6 separate regions of the Homo sapiens genome follow, and regions 2, 3, 4, 5 and 6 are each reported to be linked to region 1. Evidence: microRNA targets listed by miRTarBase, many of them from high-throughput screens and not tested one by one. Region 1 holds a microRNA gene; each other region holds the end of a gene's coding sequence.

What was found. The annotated mature microRNA hsa-miR-7108-3p reads ACCCGCCCGUCUCCCCACAG and lies in region 1 at 1,471-1,490, shown strand. An mRNA with a match to its seed (bases 2 to 7 or 8) in the 3' UTR can be bound and repressed. Matches are read on the target gene's strand: a 7mer-m8 pairs with bases 2 to 8, a 7mer-A1 pairs with bases 2 to 7 and ends in A, and an 8mer does both.
Region 2: miRTarBase lists ZBTB25 as a target of hsa-miR-7108-3p. The part of its 3' UTR that is shown has no 7-base or 8-base seed match.
Region 3: miRTarBase lists PHF21B as a target of hsa-miR-7108-3p. Seed matches in the 3' UTR shown: 7mer-m8 at 1,136-1,142 and 7mer-m8 at 1,140-1,146.
Region 4: the mRNA of VTA1 is a reported target of hsa-miR-7108-3p. The part of its 3' UTR that is shown has no 7-base or 8-base seed match.
Region 5: the mRNA of TOP6BL is a reported target of hsa-miR-7108-3p. Seed matches in the 3' UTR shown: 7mer-m8 at 2,674-2,680, 7mer-m8 at 2,669-2,675, 7mer-m8 at 2,664-2,670 and 7mer-m8 at 2,565-2,571.
Region 6: miRTarBase lists TSPAN9 as a target of hsa-miR-7108-3p. Seed matches in the 3' UTR shown: 7mer-m8 at 690-696.

Annotation. Positions count from the first base shown.
Region 1 is chr19:2,433,404-2,436,403 of GRCh38, reverse strand. MIR7108 (microRNA 7108) reads left to right here and starts at 1,404; the gene lies at 1,404-1,490. LMNB2 (lamin B2) reads left to right here. Exons shown (of 12, transcript NM_032737.4): 5 at 1,233-1,403; 6 at 1,491-1,616; 7 at 1,889-2,109; 8 at 2,299-2,578. RefSeq lists an enhancer at 2,132-2,820.
Region 2 is chr14:64,484,295-64,487,415 of GRCh38, reverse strand. ZBTB25 (zinc finger and BTB domain containing 25) reads left to right here. Exons shown (of 3, transcript NM_006977.5): 3 at 1-3,121. The coding sequence ends at 493. Among named protein-coding and RNA genes, the nearest start is that of ZBTB25, 18 kb to the left of the region's middle.
Region 3 is chr22:44,880,564-44,883,684 of GRCh38, reverse strand. PHF21B (PHD finger protein 21B) reads left to right here. Exons shown (of 13, transcript NM_138415.5): 13 at 381-2,523. The coding sequence ends at 599. Among named protein-coding and RNA genes, the nearest start is that of PHF21B, 130 kb to the left of the region's middle.
Region 4 is chr6:142,218,319-142,221,439 of GRCh38, reverse strand. It overlaps VTA1 (vesicle trafficking 1), which reads right to left. Exons shown (of 8, transcript NM_016485.5): 8 at 1-2,942. The coding sequence ends at 2,797. Among named protein-coding and RNA genes, the nearest start is that of LINC02919, 40 kb to the left of the region's middle.
Region 5 is chr11:66,842,917-66,846,037 of GRCh38, reverse strand. TOP6BL (TOP6B like initiator of meiotic double strand breaks) reads right to left here. Exons shown (of 15, transcript NM_001302084.2): 14 at 2,969-3,121; 15 at 2,522-2,869. The coding sequence ends at 2,804. It overlaps RCE1 (Ras converting CAAX endopeptidase 1), which reads right to left and starts at 2,597. Exons shown (of 8, transcript NM_005133.3): 1 at 2,398-2,597; 2 at 2,177-2,279; 3 at 1,999-2,082; 4 at 1,674-1,752; 5 at 1,002-1,169; 6 at 801-872; 7 at 476-538; 8 at 1-178. The coding sequence starts at 2,582. RefSeq lists an enhancer at 2,020-2,726 and silencers at 2,367-2,806, 2,917-3,056.
Region 6 is chr12:3,282,857-3,285,977 of GRCh38, forward strand. It overlaps TSPAN9 (tetraspanin 9), which reads left to right. Exons shown (of 9, transcript NM_006675.5): 9 at 189-3,121. The coding sequence ends at 260. Among named protein-coding and RNA genes, the nearest start is that of LINC02827, 16 kb to the right of the region's middle. RefSeq lists enhancers at 1,370-1,870, 1,871-2,371.

The DNA of each region.
Region 1 (3,000 bases):
TTGTTTTGTTTTGTTTTGTTTTTGAGATGGAGTCTTGCTCTGTTGCCCACACTGGGCCCAGCCTCCCGAGTAGCTGGGATTATAGGTGCACAGCACCACACCCAGCTAATTTTTTTCTTTTGAGACGGAGTCTTGCTCTGTCACCCAGGCTGGAGTACGGTGGCATGATCTCAGCTCACTGCAACCTCCGCCTCCTGGGTTCAAGCGATTCTCCTGCCTCAGCCTCCTGAGTAGCTGGGATTATAGGCGGGTGCCACCAACCCGACTAATTTTTGTATTTTTAGTACAGACGGGGTTTTCACCATGTTTGTCAGGCTGGTCTTGAACTTCTGACCTCATGATCCACCTGTCTTAGCCTCCCAAAGTGCTGGGATTACAGGCTTGAGCCACTGTGCCCGGCCTAATTTTTGTATTTTTAATAGAGATGGGGTTTCACCATGTTGGCTAGGCTGGTCTCGAACTCCTGACCTCGTGATCTGCCTGCCTCAGCCTCCCAAAGTGCTGGGATTACAGGCATGAGCCACCACGCCTGGCCCGCTTTCTTCAATAATGGCTTTTATAAGAGAGAGTCACTTTTTTTTTTTTTGAGACGCAGTCTCACTTTGTTACCCAGGTTGGAGTGCAATGGTGCGATCCTGGCTCACTGCAACCTCCCAAGGTCAAGCGATTCTCTTGTCTCAGCCTCCTGAGTAGCTGGGACCACAGGTGCCCGCCACCACACCTGGCTATTTTAAGTCCACCTTTTTAAAGTGTACAGTTCAGCATTGGCAGGATCTCCACAGGGTTGTGCAACCACCACCTCTAATTCTAGAACATTCCATCACCCAAAAAGAACCCCCTCCCCATCAGCAGTCCCCAGCCCTGGCCCCCACGCATCCCCTCCCTGTCTCTGTGGATGGGCCTGTCCTGGACATTTCAGGACATTTCATGGAAATGGGATCACGCACCGTGTGGCCTTTTGTGTCTGGCGTCTCTCATTGAGTGTGACGTCCTCAAGGTGCATCCATGCTGTGGCGGTGTCAGAGCCTCGCTCCTTTTCGTGGCTGAGTCACGTTCTAGCGCGTGGACGGCCCCTGGGTCGCCTCTCACCTGCACGTGTATCGGTTTGTAACTTGTGCACAAGGAACCAGGAATTGCCTGGAGGTTCCTCTTGGCACATTTTTGAGCCCTCCCTTGGGCCTGGTGCTTGGGGCCCAGGCGGGACCAGAGGGTCACGAAGCCTTGGTCCGCAGGAGGTGCGGGAGACGCGGCGGCGGCACGAGCGGCGCCTGGTGGAGGTGGACAGCAGCCGGCAGCAGGAGTACGACTTCAAGATGGCACAGGCGCTGGAGGAGCTGCGGAGCCAGCACGACGAGCAAGTGCGGCTCTACAAGCTGGAGCTGGAGCAGACCTACCAGGCCAAGGTGTGGCCGGCAGGCGGGTGGGCGGGGGCGGCCGGTGGGAACCCCGCCCCGCCCCGCGCCCGCACTCACCCGCCCGTCTCCCCACAGCTGGACAGCGCCAAGCTGAGCTCTGACCAGAACGACAAGGCGGCCAGTGCGGCTCGCGAGGAGCTGAAGGAGGCCCGCATGCGCCTGGAGTCCCTCAGCTACCAGCTCTCCGGCCTCCAGAAGCAGGTGATGAGCACAGCGCCACCGTCTGCCGTCCCCCTGGCCCAACTTCTGGGCCCTGCCCTGGATGTGCGGGGCGTGGGGCTCTGGCCTCTTGGCATCGGATGCAGCCCTCGGGGCGCCCAGCGATGCCCCTTCCCTCCCCTCCCGTGCGCCCCATGCCCAGGCCTGGTCTCTGCCCCAGTCTGTGGTGAGGGCCCATCTCCCGCAGTCCCAGGATCACCTGGGCCTTGTGACCCATGGGCTGCCCTGACCTTCGCCACCCGCCCCCTCCGCAGGCCAGTGCCGCTGAAGATCGCATTCGGGAGCTGGAGGAGGCCATGGCCGGGGAGCGGGACAAGTTCCGGAAGATGCTGGACGCCAAGGAGCAGGAGATGACGGAGATGCGGGACGTGATGCAGCAGCAGCTGGCCGAGTACCAGGAGCTGCTGGACGTGAAGCTGGCCCTGGACATGGAGATCAACGCCTACCGGAAGCTCCTGGAGGGCGAGGAGGAGAGGTGCGGCAGGCCAGGAGGCTTGGGAGCACAGAGTGAGGAGGAGGGGCAGGGCAGGAGGAGAGGCGGGACGGGGCTGCGGGGAGTGCTGGGCAGGGGTGGAGGTGGGGCCGGGCCGTGGCCGCCACTCTGCGTGCCCTGGGCTGTCTGGGGCTCCCACTACCAGTCCCACCTTCCTTGCCTTCCCCACAGGCTGAAGCTGTCCCCCAGCCCATCCTCGCGCGTCACCGTCTCACGAGCCACCTCGAGCAGCAGCGGCAGCTTGTCCGCCACCGGGCGCCTGGGCCGCAGTAAGCGGAAGCGGCTGGAGGTGGAGGAGCCCTTGGGCAGCGGCCCAAGCGTCCTGGGCACGGGCACGGGTGGCAGCGGTGGCTTCCACCTGGCCCAGCAGGCCTCGGCCTCGGGTAGCGTCAGCATCGAGGAGATCGACCTGGAGGGCAAGTTTGTGCAGCTCAAGAACAACTCGGACAAGGTGACCGGAAAGACCGGGGCATGGGGGTAACGGGGTGACCCAGCTGATGGGGGTGACCAGGGTCAGGGTGACGGGGCTGCCGGCCAATGCGAGGCAGGGGACAAGGTGACCGGAATGACCGGGGCATGGGGGTAACGGGGTGACCCAGCTGATGGGGGTGATCAGGGTCAGGGTGACGGGGCCGCCGGCCAATACGAGGCAGGGGACAAGGTGACCGGAATGACCGGGGCATGGGGGTAACGGGGTGACCCAGCTGATGGGGGTGACCAGGGTCAGGGTGACGGGGCCGTCGGCCAATGCGAGGCAGGGGACAAGGTGACCGGAATGACCGGGGCATGGGGGTAACGGGGTGACCCAGCTGATGGGGGTGACCAGGGTCAGGGTGACGGGGCTGTCGGCCAATGCGAGGCAGGGGACAAGGT
Region 2 (3,121 bases), not on the chromosome of region 1:
CATTCTGGAAAGTAATGACCTTGGTGAAGTGCATCCCCTTAATGAAAACAGCGAGGCCCTTGAATGCCGCAGGCTCAGCTCCTTCATTGTTAAGGAGAATGAACAGCAGCCAGACCACACCAACCGGGGTACCACAGAGCCTTTGCAGATCAGTCAAGTATCTTTGATCTCCAAAGACACAGAGCCAGTAGAATTAAACTGTAATTTTTCTTTTTCAAGGAAAAGAAAAATGAGCTGTACCATCTGTGGTCATAAATTCCCTCGAAAGAGCCAATTGTTGGAACACATGTATACACACAAAGGTAAATCTTACAGATATAACCGATGCCAAAGGTTTGGTAATGCATTGGCCCAGAGATTTCAGCCATACTGTGACAGCTGGTCTGATGTCTCCCTGAAAAGTTCTCGCTTGTCACAAGAACACTTAGACTTGCCTTGTGCCTTAGAGTCAGAGCTCACACAAGAAAATGTGGATACTATCCTAGTTGAGTAGCAGCTTCTCTTTCAGAATTTTTATACCAATTCTGAAAAAGAAAATTTGCGTGGCATTTTTAATTCATAAATTATTTTCCTCCTCAAGTTTCATTGACTTTTTTTCTTCACAGCTTATCCATGGTTTTAAGGTTGTATATATTAGATCTTCTCATAAGACATATTAATATGTGGCTATTAAAATGTAACATTCAATTACTACTGTGAACTTTTCACAAACGAAATAACAATTTAGAAATCAGAAATCAATGTAGAAATATGGAAACCTTAAATAGTTATTTATAGAATTCTAAGTTTTTCCAGTTATAGAATCAGTAAAATCAAATTGAATATAAAGTAAATGAAATCTGTTTTAAAGCATATTCTAAACTATCACTTCTGCCTACATTTCACATGAATTCACTCCTACCAGGATTATTTTTAAATATTTTCTTCCATATAGGAAATTAATAGTTACTTTAATGCATAACTGTATGTTATACATATGTTATAATGTATAAAAATTTATTTTAAGATATACCAAATCATGAGTAGTTTTATTTTTTAACTACTAGCTCCACAACATCTTACCTACATGGCTTCTCTTTACTTTTTAACATTGAGTATACCTCTTTTTTTTTTTGAGACAGAGTCTCTCTGTGTCGCCCAGGCTGGGGCGCAGTGGCGCGATCTCGGCTGACTGCAAGCTCCGCCTCCCGGGTTCACGCCATTCTCCTGCCTCAGCCTCCTGAGCAGCTGGGACTACAGGCGCCCGCCACCACGCCCAGCTAATTTTTTTGTATTTTTTTAGTAGAGACGGGGTTTCACCGTGTTAGCCAGGATGGTCTCGATCTCCTGACCTCGTCATCTGCCCGCCTTGGCCTCCCAAAGTGCTGGGATTACAGATGTGGTATATCTCATTTTTAATAAAAAAAACAGTTAAAGGGAGAAGAGTCAGAGAGACATTAAAAAATATTTAAGAAACAGTAAGATATACACACATAGATAAATAAGCATGCAGAGACAGAGACTGAGCTAGAACTGCATTGACTAAAAACCCCAGGGTTGTTAACTTGGTCTAGAGTGTTTTCTTAGACACCTTAAAAAGTAATTTGAGATTTTATGACCAGAGGTTTACATGAGTTGAAAGAGAATGATGATAAAATATAAATCATGTTTCTACCCTCAGCGTCAGGATTTTTGGGGCTTCCTGGGTTGATTTTAATTTTCTAAAAATCACTGAAAAAGTAATTTTTCAGTGGCACAGTTTTCACTTTTTTCCTGATCCATAAAACCAGCAAAGTGGATACATTCAGTGTTCTATAACTACATTTAAGATCCATGATGTTAGCTTTTCCTCTATAAATCAACTTAACTCTCTTTTATAATGGTGACACTTACAAAGCTAAAACCCCAGGAAAATTAAAGTTGATGAAAGAAATAACAGATTCCCCGGCTCTATATACCTGGGAAATAGCTGGTTAAGCTTCACCACAAAGGATAGATCTAAATTGTTTCTGAAATGTTTAAATTTCAAACCCCGCATAGTCAAGGATAATAAAACAGACTCATCTTTTTTTGCCCTCTTGTTAAATTCTAAGCTTCACGGGCATTTGAATACATCTAAAAAATTTGGTTTGTGAGCCTTAGAATTTAACCACTTACAAAACTCTTGAGCTCCCTCCACTTCTGAGGACGTTTCCTGACACATTCAACAGCATCAGCGTCCAATCAGGAGGGAGCTCAAAGAGTAATCCAGCTAATTCTAAGGACACAAAGGTTTTCTCTAGGTAAACAGTTTAGGTAAATTACAAAGTGGTAAGTTTTTCTTGAGGATTGAATGAAGAAAGCTACTGGATATTGTGTAAGGCAGTTGAGTTTCTGCCTTAAACAAGTGAGTAAAGGCTCCTATGGTTAAGACTGATGTGTGTTGAGAGCACATCTAACTTGATAAGATCAATTGTATTGGGAGTAATTAAAACAAATGTATGTTCTTTGGGGTCAGAACTTTGTCTAATCTTAAACTTTTTTCTACCAATTCACTTAAGCAACTATTGAAATTTGTACTGCCCTCAAAAATATCATCTCATTGGAAGAACACAAGTATTAACATTGATTTTTTGTATTTTAGGCTAGTTAAGATATATTTCCTAGCCTTCTTCAATTCAAATTCTATTGTTCTTATTAAGATAATTTTTCTCCTCTATATTCTTCCCTGTTTGCCTACTCATTATTATTATTTTTTTAATTTAATTTTTTTTTAAGATGGAGTTTCACCCTTGTTGCCCAGGCTGGAGTGCAATGGCGTGATCTCGGCTCACTGCAATCTCTGCTGCCTGGGTTCAAGCGATTCTCCTGCCTTAGCCTCCCAAGTAGCTTGGGATTACAGGCATGCACCACCATACCCAGCTAATTTTGTGTTTTTAGCAGAGACAGGGTTTCACCATCTTGGTCAGGCTGGTCTGGAACTCCTGACCTCAGGTCATGCACCAGCCTCGGCCTCCCATAGTGCTGGGATTACAGGTGTGAGCCACCGTGCCAGGCCCACTCATTATTCTTTGACACAGGAAATCCTTGTATATAGCTAAAGGGTGGAGGTAGAGTTGTACATGGTTGGTTGGATAAGACAGCAAGTGCCTCAGGGCAGAGT
Region 3 (3,121 bases), not on the chromosome of region 1:
AGCACAACAGGCGAGAGAAAGAGCAGAAAGGCGACTGGGAAGCCAAAGGCCTCCGAGGCTGCTGCAGTTTGGCCAGCAGGAGGAGGAGGAAGAGTGTGGGCAGCTAGCGGGGAGGAGGAGGTCACATCACAGCCATGGGAAGGACGTTCCCAGGCAGAGCCACACTTTTTCTAGCCCTAAGTTCCAAAGCGAGCATCATCTCCTGTGGGTCTGGCTGCTCTTTAATTGCATTTGCACCACTGCCTGGTTTTTGTGAAGCCCTCAGCCTGGTTTCTTGTAGGCCTTTGTAGTGGAGGGGAGAGGGGCCCAGACGGTGGCTGCCCCAGGATGGCTGTAGAGCCGAATACTGAGACCCTTTCCCCTGACCTTCTCCCCAACAGAAATGCCTGGAGTTGAAGACAAGCCTGCTGGCCCGCCAGAGGGGCACCCAGTCATCCCTGGACCGCCTGCGGGCCCTCCTGAGACTGATACAGGGCGAGCAGCTGCTCCAGGTCACCATGACGACCACTAGCCCTGCCCCACTGCTGGCCGGGCCCTGGACCAAGCCCTCAGTGGCAGCCACACACCCCACCGTCCAGCACCCCCAGGGCCACAACTGACCCCGAGGGACCAGTCTTCATACCCACGGAAAGTTATTGGGACCCTGCTTACACAGCCTGGGGGTTCTGTCGGCCTTAATTCATAAACACTATGAATTTCAGACAAAAATTAACCAGACAGAGGAGAGGAGGGAGGAAGAGCTGGGCGAGAGGCCTAGAGCCAGGACCAGGTGGGGGTGCGGCCCTGTGCCCTCCAAATTCACAGGGGGTACCTAGGAGCCAGGTGGGGTACGACAGGCTGGGGCACACAGTCTCCCCCCGGCCACCTCGGGGCTGCCTGGGCCTCTGGCTTCCAGGCCCTGCTCTCCACGGCCTCCCTCTGGCCCGTTGGAGGGGCAGGCTGAGGCTGTGGAGGGGACAAGCACGCCCCCCAGAACGCAGTCTCCACTGAGGGCACCGCCTATTGGTGTCCTGTGGGAGGGCGAGCTGAGAACACATGGACTAGCTGAGTGGTAGCGGTAGTTGGGACGAGAAGCGGGGTAGTGGATCTAGGTAGTTCCTCAATGCCCCACGCTCCTAGGAGGTCCCCCTGGGGTGGGCGGGCGGGCCTGGGGCACTCCGTCGCCTTTGCAGAACCACCTGGGCCCCTTTCTGTCAGTATTATTAGGGTTACGAATTGCAGCTGTTTAACTTGAAAGACACTGTCGGAGGTGAGCATCTGGGCGCCGGGACGCTGCAGTGATCCCCGCCAGAGCCTGTGCCCTTCCTGCTCCGTCTTTGGGGTCCTCAAGGCTGCCTCCTTCCTTTTGCCAATCTCTTGGACTCAGTTTGCCGTTGATGCGTTTTTCTCATGGAGTTTCTGGGCAGAGTGGAGCTGCAACCCTGTTGTGGGGGGCAGCATTTGGCAGGTTTTCTCCTTGGGGTTGAATCATTCAACTTAACGACTGAAGCCCTTTCTTGTCTCCTTTGGAAGAGCCGATAAGTATTCCACTCCTCCCTTCTTGCCAGTGCAGACACTATGCCAAAAAATAACTTCACACTTTTGTATGGCGTTTTTATTGTGAGATATTTAATGTGAATGGTTGGGGGGACTCTGGCTGACTTCCTTTCTGCTTCTAGTAGTCTCTGCTTCAAGGTACAAATGGGAACACCTCCCCTCGGGAAGCCTGGCCAAGCTGGAAGATCCGGCAGGTTTTTTACGAGCCGGGTGGAGGGTTGGGGAGGAAAGAAAGGGCGGTGGCTCGGGAGGTTCCGGCCTTCGGGGACCAGACTTGCTGCCAAGGGCTTCTGCATCCAGGGTGGGCAGTGGCAGCTTGTCACCCTTGCCCGATTCCCACATCCCAGTCCTGAGGGACTCAGCACAACAGGATAAGCGTCCAGGAGCCACGGGCTCCCACCCCGAGCATATCACATGGTGCCGAATTGCACTGAACACGCGTGTGTGCATCGCACGCGGCCACGACCACAGACACGCATGCACACACGCAGAGGTGCAGAGCGAGGAGGCCGGCAAATCCCGCAGCTGCCACGGTCCCTCCTGTCATTCTCACGACTCCGGGAGAAACTGTGCTGTATGATACAGATCTATTTTAATACACTTACCACTGGGTGAACAAGATTTTTATATTCTTTTATTGATGAACAAAGTGAACCGTGTGAGGCACACGTCTTCTATATTGGCTACTCTGTGCCAAGTATGCATTACCGCGTGGCTTGCGATGTCCATGTCTTCAGCTTCCTTTTCTGTTGGTTTGGTTTTCTTCGCGGATGGATTGAGTTACATGTTTTAACAGTGTAATGGGAGGATCTGAAAGGTTGGACCCGGGAGGGGTAGCTGCCGATGTGTCTTGAGATTGTTAGGTTTTTTTTGGACCAAGGAGGACCGTCCAGTGGGTAGTGAGGATAGAGAAAAAGTGTTTGTCTTAAATACGCCAATGTAGTTTTCCTTCTTTACAATGTATTAAACTCGATCGATGATTTCAAAGCCCTGTGGTTTTGGTGTCCTTGCGTTGCGGAGAGGCCCCCGGGAGTGCCCAGGGCAGCCAGGTGGGCGTTGGAGGGGCTGGAAATCAGGGTCTTCTCCCATCCTGAGGAGGGAGGGATGGAGGGAGGGAAACAGGGAGAGAGCTCAGTGCCCTCCACTCACTCACCCCCGATTCCCAGTCCTCAGAGGCGGCGGGTGACCCTTTAGGGCTAGGATTGAGGGTGGAAAGTCTTGGAAACCCAGCAGGTCTGTCACTGTGCAGAGCCCAAGGTGGTGCCCTCTGCTCCCTCATGGGTTCCTGCCTCTCAGCCTGGCAACATCACCGCTGTCTCTCTCCCCCAGCAGCGGGTACAGGCGCTCCTGCAGCCACGCTGAGCTTACACCTTGCCCTACAAGAGGTGGGGAATCAGCCCCCCTGAGTCCTAGCTCCTGGCATTGCACGGGGGACTCTGATTGGCCAAGTGGGTCGGGGCCGACCCCTGGGCAGTTAGCTGTGGCCAGAGGCTGGGGTCTAATGCCAAAGTGGGGTCCGGTGCCCCAGGGGACAGAGAGGTGGAGGGCATGCAGGGCTGCCACACAGTCCCGCTTCATGGCTTGC
Region 4 (3,121 bases), not on the chromosome of region 1:
CTGACCTGATTTCTGTCTACCTGTTGGGAATGCTCTTCCTCCATGTATGTATCTGCATACTAGTTACTCTTTTCCTTCTTTGCTCAAATGTTACCTCAGGGAGGTCTATCCTGGCTATTCTATTGAAATATGCATATGTCTGTACACACCTAAGCATCTCCTATCCTGTCCTCAATGTTTCCTCCATAGCATTTATCACTATTTAATACAGAAGTTCCCATAGTGTGGTCCCCAGAACTTTCTAGCAAGTTCGCAGGTGATGCTGATGCCGGTCGTCCAGAGACACCTTTGAGAACCGGTTTGAGGAGAATCTCTTTTCTCAGACTTGCAATATTTCTGATTTGGGTAGAGCTAAACCACTCGAACTTTAGGGACCACCTTAAGTGTCTCTTAAAACTCAGAAGGCTGGGACCCATCCCTAGAGTTTCTGATTGGGTAGGACAGGTGGGGCCCAAAATTTGTATTTCTAATCACACTCGGAGAGCCACTGATTAAATGTAATGTATATTTTATTATCTATTTCCTCCCTTTTAGAATGTAAACTCTATGAGGGAGGGACTTTTTTTCCTGCTGTTTCTGCTTTCAAAGAACAATACCAGGCATATAGTAGCCATTCAGTAAATATATATGGAAGGAATAAATGAAAATTGCTAATCCTACTGTTACATCAGAACACATCTCCTAATTTTATTTTAAGATTTTATAGGAAAAAATACAAATACAAAGTTAACAAACATTGTATAGTTCAATCCCCTCATGCAAGAAGGCGTTTTTAAGCACTGGGCCACATAGACAACTGGGATTTCCTGATATTAGGGAAATAAATTATTAACAATTTACATTATTAGAGCATTAGTATTGACACTAAACATTTATGAAATGCTACCATGCGCTAAGCACTTCAGGTACTGTATCTCTTTTAATTCTTGTAACTATTGAGATGGCTAGTGGTGTCATTTCCATTTTACAGAGAAGGGCTCTGTCACACCATGCAGCCCACTACCAGCGGACTCCGTAGTTTCTATATTGTCTCCTTCCCTCTATGTGCTCTCCCAATTGGGAACCAGAAGGTAGGGTATAAAATAGGAGGTGATGCGTTTACTTTTCAGTGTCCAGGCATATCAAGGTTTGAATTAAAATTTGCTGAACATCATGTAACACTAAAGGTCATCCTGGCCATCTTTCTATTCGTAATAACATTCTAAAGAGCATTGGATTTCTAGATGCAAATGTGGAACCCTACAAATGTTCATACCTCTTGTAAAAGATAGGAAAATGTTTTTTAGGAGGCATGTTGTTTGGGGACTTTTTTGTGAGGATTTAGAACAGTTTAGTCAGTCTGAATATTTATTCTACCAAACCCTGTACAATAGCATTACATTTATGCAGAAAATAATGGATATAAATGATTATGAGTTAGTGATTTGTTTTTTCCCAAAAGGCCATTAGACTAGGTGTCTTAACTTTTTCTTAGAGGGCCAAATAGTAAATGTTTTTAGACTTGCAAGCCATACAACTCTGCAGTTGTGGAAAGCAACCACAGACAAAACATAAATGAATGAGTGTAGGCTTGTTTCAAAGAAACTTTATTTACGTAACAGGTGGCCAATCCATGGGCCAAAGCTTGCTGACCCTTGTGTTTAAAGATTCCCATCTTAGTAGCATGAATAAAATGGACCAGATAAATTTCAGTTAACTTTGTCAAATTTATCTTAAAAAACAAAAAACAAAAAACCTGTTTCTTCCTATAGAAACACCCATATTCCTATAAATAAAAATGACTTTTAAAAAAGACAATCCTAGCAGGCAAATAAAAACAGACATTTGTCTTTGTAGTAAGTTGAATTAGCTAAACGAATCCTTGTATTTATTTTTCACACAGCACAAATGCAGGTAGTACACAGTAAGTTCATAATTCCCCACAAAACTTATAAACTTAACAAATGGGAATCTAAACATAATATTCTGAATCACCCATAGCTATCCACTGTGTGGAATCCATTCTACAGCAGCAGAGGAGTACCTTAATTTAAAGCACCAAGTTTCCAGGCATTACTACAAATATCTTCTTTTCATTCTCTAATACATGCAGTCAAACTGCCTATGAAGCAAATACCAATTCATCTTACGCTTTAACAGATAAGGTAAAGCACTTGGGAAATCAACATTATTCTTAAGTCTGAAAGTGATTCTACCTCTTTACCTTATTATATTTTCTCCCATGAAATTTTAAACTTTTAATGGAGTTATATTTAATATGAGAATAAATTAAAATTTGAACTTAATGTCTTTTCAGATTCATCCAGCAGTTTAGAATGTTTATATTTGTTTTATGTCTTGAGGGAAACAAAAACGTAATTTCTAATTTAGAATATTCTGGCTATCTTTATTAAAAGTTACATTTATAATTTTATAGCAAAGTAATATCATCTGTTTGTCCAAACATTACAGATTTTAAAAAATTCCCCTAATGTATGTAAATACAAAGCTTATTCCCAGTACACATTTTATAGAGGTGTGTTTTCATTTTTTGAAGCAGGGTTCAATGGACATTTTTAGGGTCTTGCTAACATCAGCCCTATATACTCAGAGACGATTGAATCTAGTAAATGGACAATGAAAACTGGTTGAGGCTGCTGATGAATGCTTCAATAAAAATCTGATACACACAGATTTCATTGTCATATTCAACAAAACCAAGTCTTCCTTAAAACTGTGATCCTGATAGGCTGAAGATAGAGTAATGGACTGTTAGTTCCTCATGCCAAAAATACATGGGTCTGTCATACAAAGGCTTCATTCTCTGCCTGTCGTCAGTAACTTGAGAGCCTTTTGTAGATTCTGGACAGCAGTGCTTACATCTTCATACTGCAAAGCACTGCCAGCATATTTGCAGTACTTCTGAGCTCTAGCAAAGTCTTCTGGGGTTAGACGAACATCCCCTAGAAGAAAAAGAACAATTGGGATATTTATAAGAATATAAAAAGTGTTCTGTAAGGTTGGGCAAATGCTTATGCTTAAGATTAAAAAACATATTTAAGGCTATGTAAAAACAGTAGTTTTAGTCAATCTCACATGAACTTTGATACATTTTCTTCATTCTTTTCAATTGTCTTTTTAT
Region 5 (3,121 bases), not on the chromosome of region 1:
AGGCTGCCGTAGAGCTTGGGGTCCGTGAGGGGCTGGAGCAGAAGCAGGAAGAGTCCCACACCCAGGGCATAGCCTGCCAGCAGGGGCCGCCTCTGTGGGTGCTCCAAGGCCGCGCAAACAGCTGGGAAACCCATGTAATTGCAGAAGGAATGGCAGAGAACCGGCCCAATCAGGTGTCCTGGGGAAAAGAGACAGCAGCTCAGGGAGCAGCCCTACCACCTCCTCTGGCCCTTCCAGGGCTAGTGACCCTCATCCCCTGAAACAGGAGATCAAGATCCCACTACCCCAGCCATCCACCCACACACCACGGCCTCTGCTCCTTTCCACCTCTCAGACCTCACCAGGCTGAGGGCTCTGGCTCAGCCTGTCTCAAGGACTGGAGTAGAAGAACTTTTGTTCCTAGAACAAACAGTATTCCCATTCTCCCACCCGCTCCTGTGGGCCCCCAGGGACCCATGAGGGACTGAGGACCAACCTGTGCGGATGAAGAGGAAAGCAGTGTAGGCACCGAAGACAGCTGTGTAGGAGAACTGGAACGCTGGAGACGGGGAGGCCACGAGTGACCACACCTGCACGCCCTTCCTGCCCCCACACTACATACCCATCAGCCAAAGACCGACCATCCCCTCCCCCCGGGGCAGTAGCTGCCTGCCCCACCACCTACAGCTGTCCTGCACCCCAACTTCCCACGGTCAGTGGCCTCTCCAATACTGTGGCCCTCAGTTCCCAATTCCTTCTCCAGAGTGGCCATTAGCGACATCATCATACACCCTAACCCAGGCCAGCTAGCCAGGACTCACCAGCAGACAAGAAGATGTTCCCCACGCTGCTCTGGCGGAAACGCAGCTGCTCAATAATATGGTGAAAATGGGCTGGGAAAAAGGTGACAATCACATCACAGTCATTCCTCCCAGCCTCCCTTCTAGGACTGCCCCTCACCTCAAGCCCCCTTCTGAGCTCTCATGCTGAAAACACACCAGGACTAATCTGGCCAGACTCACCAACTCCAAAAAAGAGCGGGCAGGTGAACACAGCAGGGCCCAGGCCCATGCACGGTGCTAACATGGGCAGCATACAGGCCCGGAACACCAGCTCCTCTGTCAGCGGGGCGATCACTTGGTTCCGCAGCCAACGCATGTCTGTGAGGCAGCGGGCCCAGGAGCGGGGGGCTGCAGAGGGAATTCAGGACAAGCTGTGAGTGACGGGCTGTCAGACAGTGAGACCCCAGAGGCTCCAAGGGCTCCTCTCCCACAACTTTACCCTGGCCAAACTCAGGTTAGGCATCAATACTGCTGAGGACGGGGGTGTGGACCCAACATAAACCCAATGTCTTGAGATGACCTGAATGGAAGGCATTAGCTGAGGCAAGGGCATCCTGGAAGTAAACTCTGGAGACACCAAAATTTAAGCAAGACTAGCTCTGGTTGGGGAAGCAGGGGACAGTGCTCTCTGATCCACACCAAATACTGCTGGGGGTTCCCAGGGAACTCCTTGGACGTTGGCAATCAACCCTTAGAGGCCACCTAGCTCTATGTTTCCATTTTACTGATGAGAAAACACACCCAGAGAGATGACATTTCACGTGTCCAGATCACACCCTGAGCCCGCTGACTCCCTGCCCCAATGTCCTGGACTGCCTGTGCCTACTTTTCCCTTCAGCCTTTAAGACTCACCCAGGACAACCTTCAGCCCATCTGCCAGGTCACAAGGGCAATCCATAGAGAGCTGCATCAGTGGGCCCAGGAAAAGAATCTGAGGGCAAGAAAACACTTTCACCATAACCCACCGCTTTTGCCCAGACCTTTGCCCATGCTCCCTGAGACTCCAAGCTTGAAATCCTCTCCAGCCACGATTTCCAGACCATGCATACCGGAGGACCCTGGGGCCATCTCAAAAGTCCTGTCTCCCATCAACCAAAAACCAAAAACAAGAGTCCACGGCACTGCCCATCAGGCTGATAACAAAGACCAGAAGAAAAAATACAGCAGGAGCACTCACCATGGTCAGCAACAGGGGCAGCAGCGCCGCTGGGAAAATGCCCTCCAGCCTGAAGCCCATCAGGGTGAGCAGGGATGTGCCTGGCTGAGCCACAGGAAAGGGGGCATCAGTTTTGCTTCCTCCCCTAAAGACCCCTGAGCTCTCACCGCCGTTGCCCTTTGCCCCGCCTCCTTCGCACCTGGATGCCTGTGAGTTCCCTCCAGAGCAGCACGCACAGGGGTGAGAGACTGGACACCACCAGGACGCTGGTGAAGCGTCGCTTGATGACCGCGGGATGGTCCCTACGGAGGGGACAGTAAGTTCAGGGGGCCCGCGGCTGCCCATGAGCACGGACCCGCCCCCGGCTCGCCCAAGCTCCGCCCGCAGGGCGCGGATTCCGGTCGCGCGCAGCCCCCGCACCTGGGCAGTTCGCTCTTCCAGACGTAGAGGCTGCCCACGTAGGAGCAGGCGAGGCTGAGGCAGGAGAACACTGACACCCAGCAGCACAGCCCGGGGCCCAGGCCGCCCAGCGCCGCCGACTCGGGCGGCCGCTCCGGCCGCGACACCGACAGCAGTCGCAGCCCATCCCCGCCCAGCGCCGCCATTGCGCCCTGACCCGCGGCGCGCACCAGTGACGCAGTCCCAGGGAGGTGTGGGTGACGTCAGGCCGCGGCGCGGCTCCACGCCCCGCCCCGCCCCGCCCGGGCCCGACGCGGAAGCAGACGCGGAAGAGGACTTGGTGAGCGCGCGGCAGCTTTATTAAACCACGGGATAACGGCTGCCCGCAGCCTCCGGATCGGTGGGCGCTTGCGGAAGGGGACCCGGCTCAGGGCCCAGGGCTGGGACTCAGCCACTCTGACAGGTTGGAGACCTCCTGCAGCCACAGCACGTCCTGCGGGAACAAGGGGGCCCGGGGTGAGGACCTCTCAGCAGCGGCCCGTGGCCTGCACCTCCTGCTGAGCCCTTCCCTGCGCGGCCCTCGCCCAGTTACCTCCAGGCGGCTTCCGAGGCTCGCCCTGCCCGGCGCCAGGGCCCTGCCGTGAGCCTCGCGGTGCTCCCTTCCTCTAGGAGTGAGGGGGGCCGCGGTGGCTTCCGGGCGGCGCGGGGCGGCCTCTGACGGGCTCGGGGCCCTGGCAGAGCGCAG
Region 6 (3,121 bases), not on the chromosome of region 1:
GTGTGTGTCTCCAGGGTGACCTCTGTTCACGGTTTTCTTCATGTCTTCATTCCATAAGCATTTTCCTGGCACACCAGTGGCCATCCCCGCTTGCTCTAGGTGCCCTGTGACATCCCAAGCCTCTCGGGGCTGAGGTCAGGTCCAGGCTGCTGCAGCTCCTGCCTCAGGCCCCTCCCCGTGTCTTTCAGATCCTGGGCATGGCCTTCTCCATGACCCTCTTCCAGCACATCCACCGGACTGGTAAGAAGTACGACGCATGAGCGGGCTGGCCGGGAGTGCCCACCCCGCCCTGCTGCCCTGTGGAGGGAAGAGGATTGAGCTTTGTGTCACCTGCCTGCGCTCTCCAGATATGACCCCTGCACCCACCCCCCACAGCCTGCCCTACCCCACCTACCCTGCCTCAGCCTCGGACTTCTCAGTGGGTGGAGTGCCAGGGAGGAGGAGGCACACGGAGACCTGGGGCTCGGGGCCCCTGGATTCCTGCATCTGCATATGCGTATTTGCCAAAGACGACAGGGTGGGCTGGGGTGCGCTCCGGAGGAACCCCCGGCACTGATGGGCTTCTGCCCCTGCCCTTCCTCACACTGACACTTTGTCCCCACATGGGGTGGGGAGCAGAGTGCCCGCCCCGTGGAGATACCGCCCCAGCGGGGGCTGCGACATCCATGGCCACCATGGGGCACCTGGCGGGGCGGGGGTCTGCCGGCCTCTGGGCAAGGCCCCTGGAGCATCTCGCCCAGGCTTTTTATACCTTACAATGTAACTTTTTTATTTTATTTTACTCTATGATTATTCAGGAATATTATCTCTCAGATAAGTTTAGGGTTAGATTTCTGATTTGTAACTTTTTACTGTGTTGATTTCTTTAATGGTTTGACTTTTTTTCCCTGAGGGTGAGGGATGGGTGGGAAGAGAGGACATCTGTCCAGTCTCAATCAGGACAGACCACCGTGCGACACCCAGGAGGCTCTCGGATGGGGCGCGCCTGCGCCCTCAGAACGTGTGGGAAGGAGGGGGCGTGGACAGGACACGGGACCTTGCCAGGCCTGGTGTCTGAGGACAGGAGCCTGGGAGAGGCGGGTGGAGCGTGAAGCAGGCTGGAGGTGCCCCTGCACGGGAGGTGGCGTTTGCTAACCAATCGAGCTGGAAATGCCAGGGCAGGGGGGCCCCACGGTGCTGTGGCAGAGCTAGAGGGGTCCTTAGACTTTTCACTGATGAGCAGTTGTTGGTTTTTTCTTTCTCCCTTCCTCCCGCTCTCTGCTGGCACGCGAGGCTTCCCCTTCCACCCCATGTGGGTATTCCCACAACAGGTTCTGCACACCCCAGTTATTTCACAGACATTCCTGCTAGAAACTGTCAGACAAATACCTCTCTAGTTCGGATGCTGCTCACTTTCCCCCTTGCTTCTGGAAGGGGAAGCAGTCCTTAGGTTTTGCTGTGCTGGGACAGTGGCAGGGGACCCACAGGGGTGAGGACCCACGGTCCTCCCCGCCAGCCTTGCTCAGCTGTGGGTTGCCCTGCTGGGAAGGAGGGAATCACGTCCACCTGGGTCCCAAGATCTTCGCCTCCTTCCCTGGGGCCACGGACATCAGCAGTGGGTTGGGTGGCGATTATATCATCTGTGATCCCAAGGAGAAGAAATACAGAAAACCCAAGAGAGGTCAGACTGGCTCTTGTTACCGGAGCCACGGGAAGAAAGCAGCCGGAGTCACGCACGTGCAGAGCTGGGCATGGGAGAGAAACGGGCTGGGGAGTGAGGCCAGGAGTGGGATTCAGCTGCAGCAGGGCGCCCCCTCCAAACTGCAGCTGGTCTGGCTTACTGTTTTGCCGTTCAAAAAGGTCGCGAATCCGTGGGACTGAGCACGGGGACCTCACCCGCTAGCCAGCGTCTGCTGCACTTGATCAGGTGGGGCCTTGGTGGGCGGCTGCCTTTCCTATACAGTTTGTCTTGTCACCCTGGTTTCCCACTGGGGCCAGGTCTCTTCTCCAGCCTCCACCTGCCTGTCTGATCCAAGAGCTGAGACACGGCCACCCAGCACCAGTCACTCCTCTGTTCACCTTAAGTAACACACAAATCGGGAACAGGAGGACAGAACCGTTGGCATTATCAGGATTCGTGTTTTGTGGGGGTGGGAGTGGAGAGTAGGGTGGTCTTGTGAGTTGTGCAGGGTGAAGACCGCTTCCCTGAGACAGGGGCAGTGGTGCTGATGGAATGTGGGGGAGGCCCACATTTGAGCAAAGCTGCCCTGCCCTTGTCCCCTGGCCTGGCTTCCTGGTAAGGAGTTTCAGCCGCCTCCGCAGGAACCCCCAAAGTGCAGATTCCGGAGCAGACACATCCGGGCGGAGAGACTCAGCAGACAAGTGCTGCAGTTGCACGGTGGGACCCGGGGCCTCGTGCGTTTTTTGCTGTGGGTGGGGTGGGTGGGTTGGTTTATGCCTATCAATGCAATTTTTAATTTTTGTTAATATCAACAGCAAAAGCCTAGTGCATTGGGAGATGTGCAACCTCCCTGAAAATCTTTTCTGTTTCTGGAGTACTTCAGGGGTGGCCTCTGGCCCCAGAGCCTTTGCCACAGTGCTCCCACCAGCCCCCACCTCATCCGTCTGTTTGCAGAGCCTCATCTACAGGTCCCCACGCTGCCTTCTTTACTCACTCTGCGCTTGGCCGTTTTGTTATTTGGCTTAGTCTACATTGGGCGGAAGTCTGTGTGCACAGAGTGGGTGTTCCTTCGAGCCCCTTCCACTCAGAGGGCCACACCCAGCGATGCCAGTGAAGGTGGCACAGCCTCTCTTCAGTTTCTCCTGACTGTGATCTCACTGGGGTAGAATTCCCCTGAGAGAATTCCCTCACTCACGGCTCCCTTTGCCAGAGTCAGTTCAATCAGGTCTGATGTGAGCAATTTACACACTTGTCTCAGAAAGTCCCTCAGGGTTTGTAGAGGACTGCAGGGGGGCATCCGCTGCAGACTCAGCCTTTCTCTGCAGCCATCCTGCAGTGGGGGTGAGCGGGCACAGGCTGAGAACTGCTCTTGGGTGGTGGAAGCAGGTGTCACGGTGCAAGTCTCCCCCTGCACCCCTCCCCCAGCTTGAGCCGTGTCACCCCCCTCTCCCTCCAGCATGG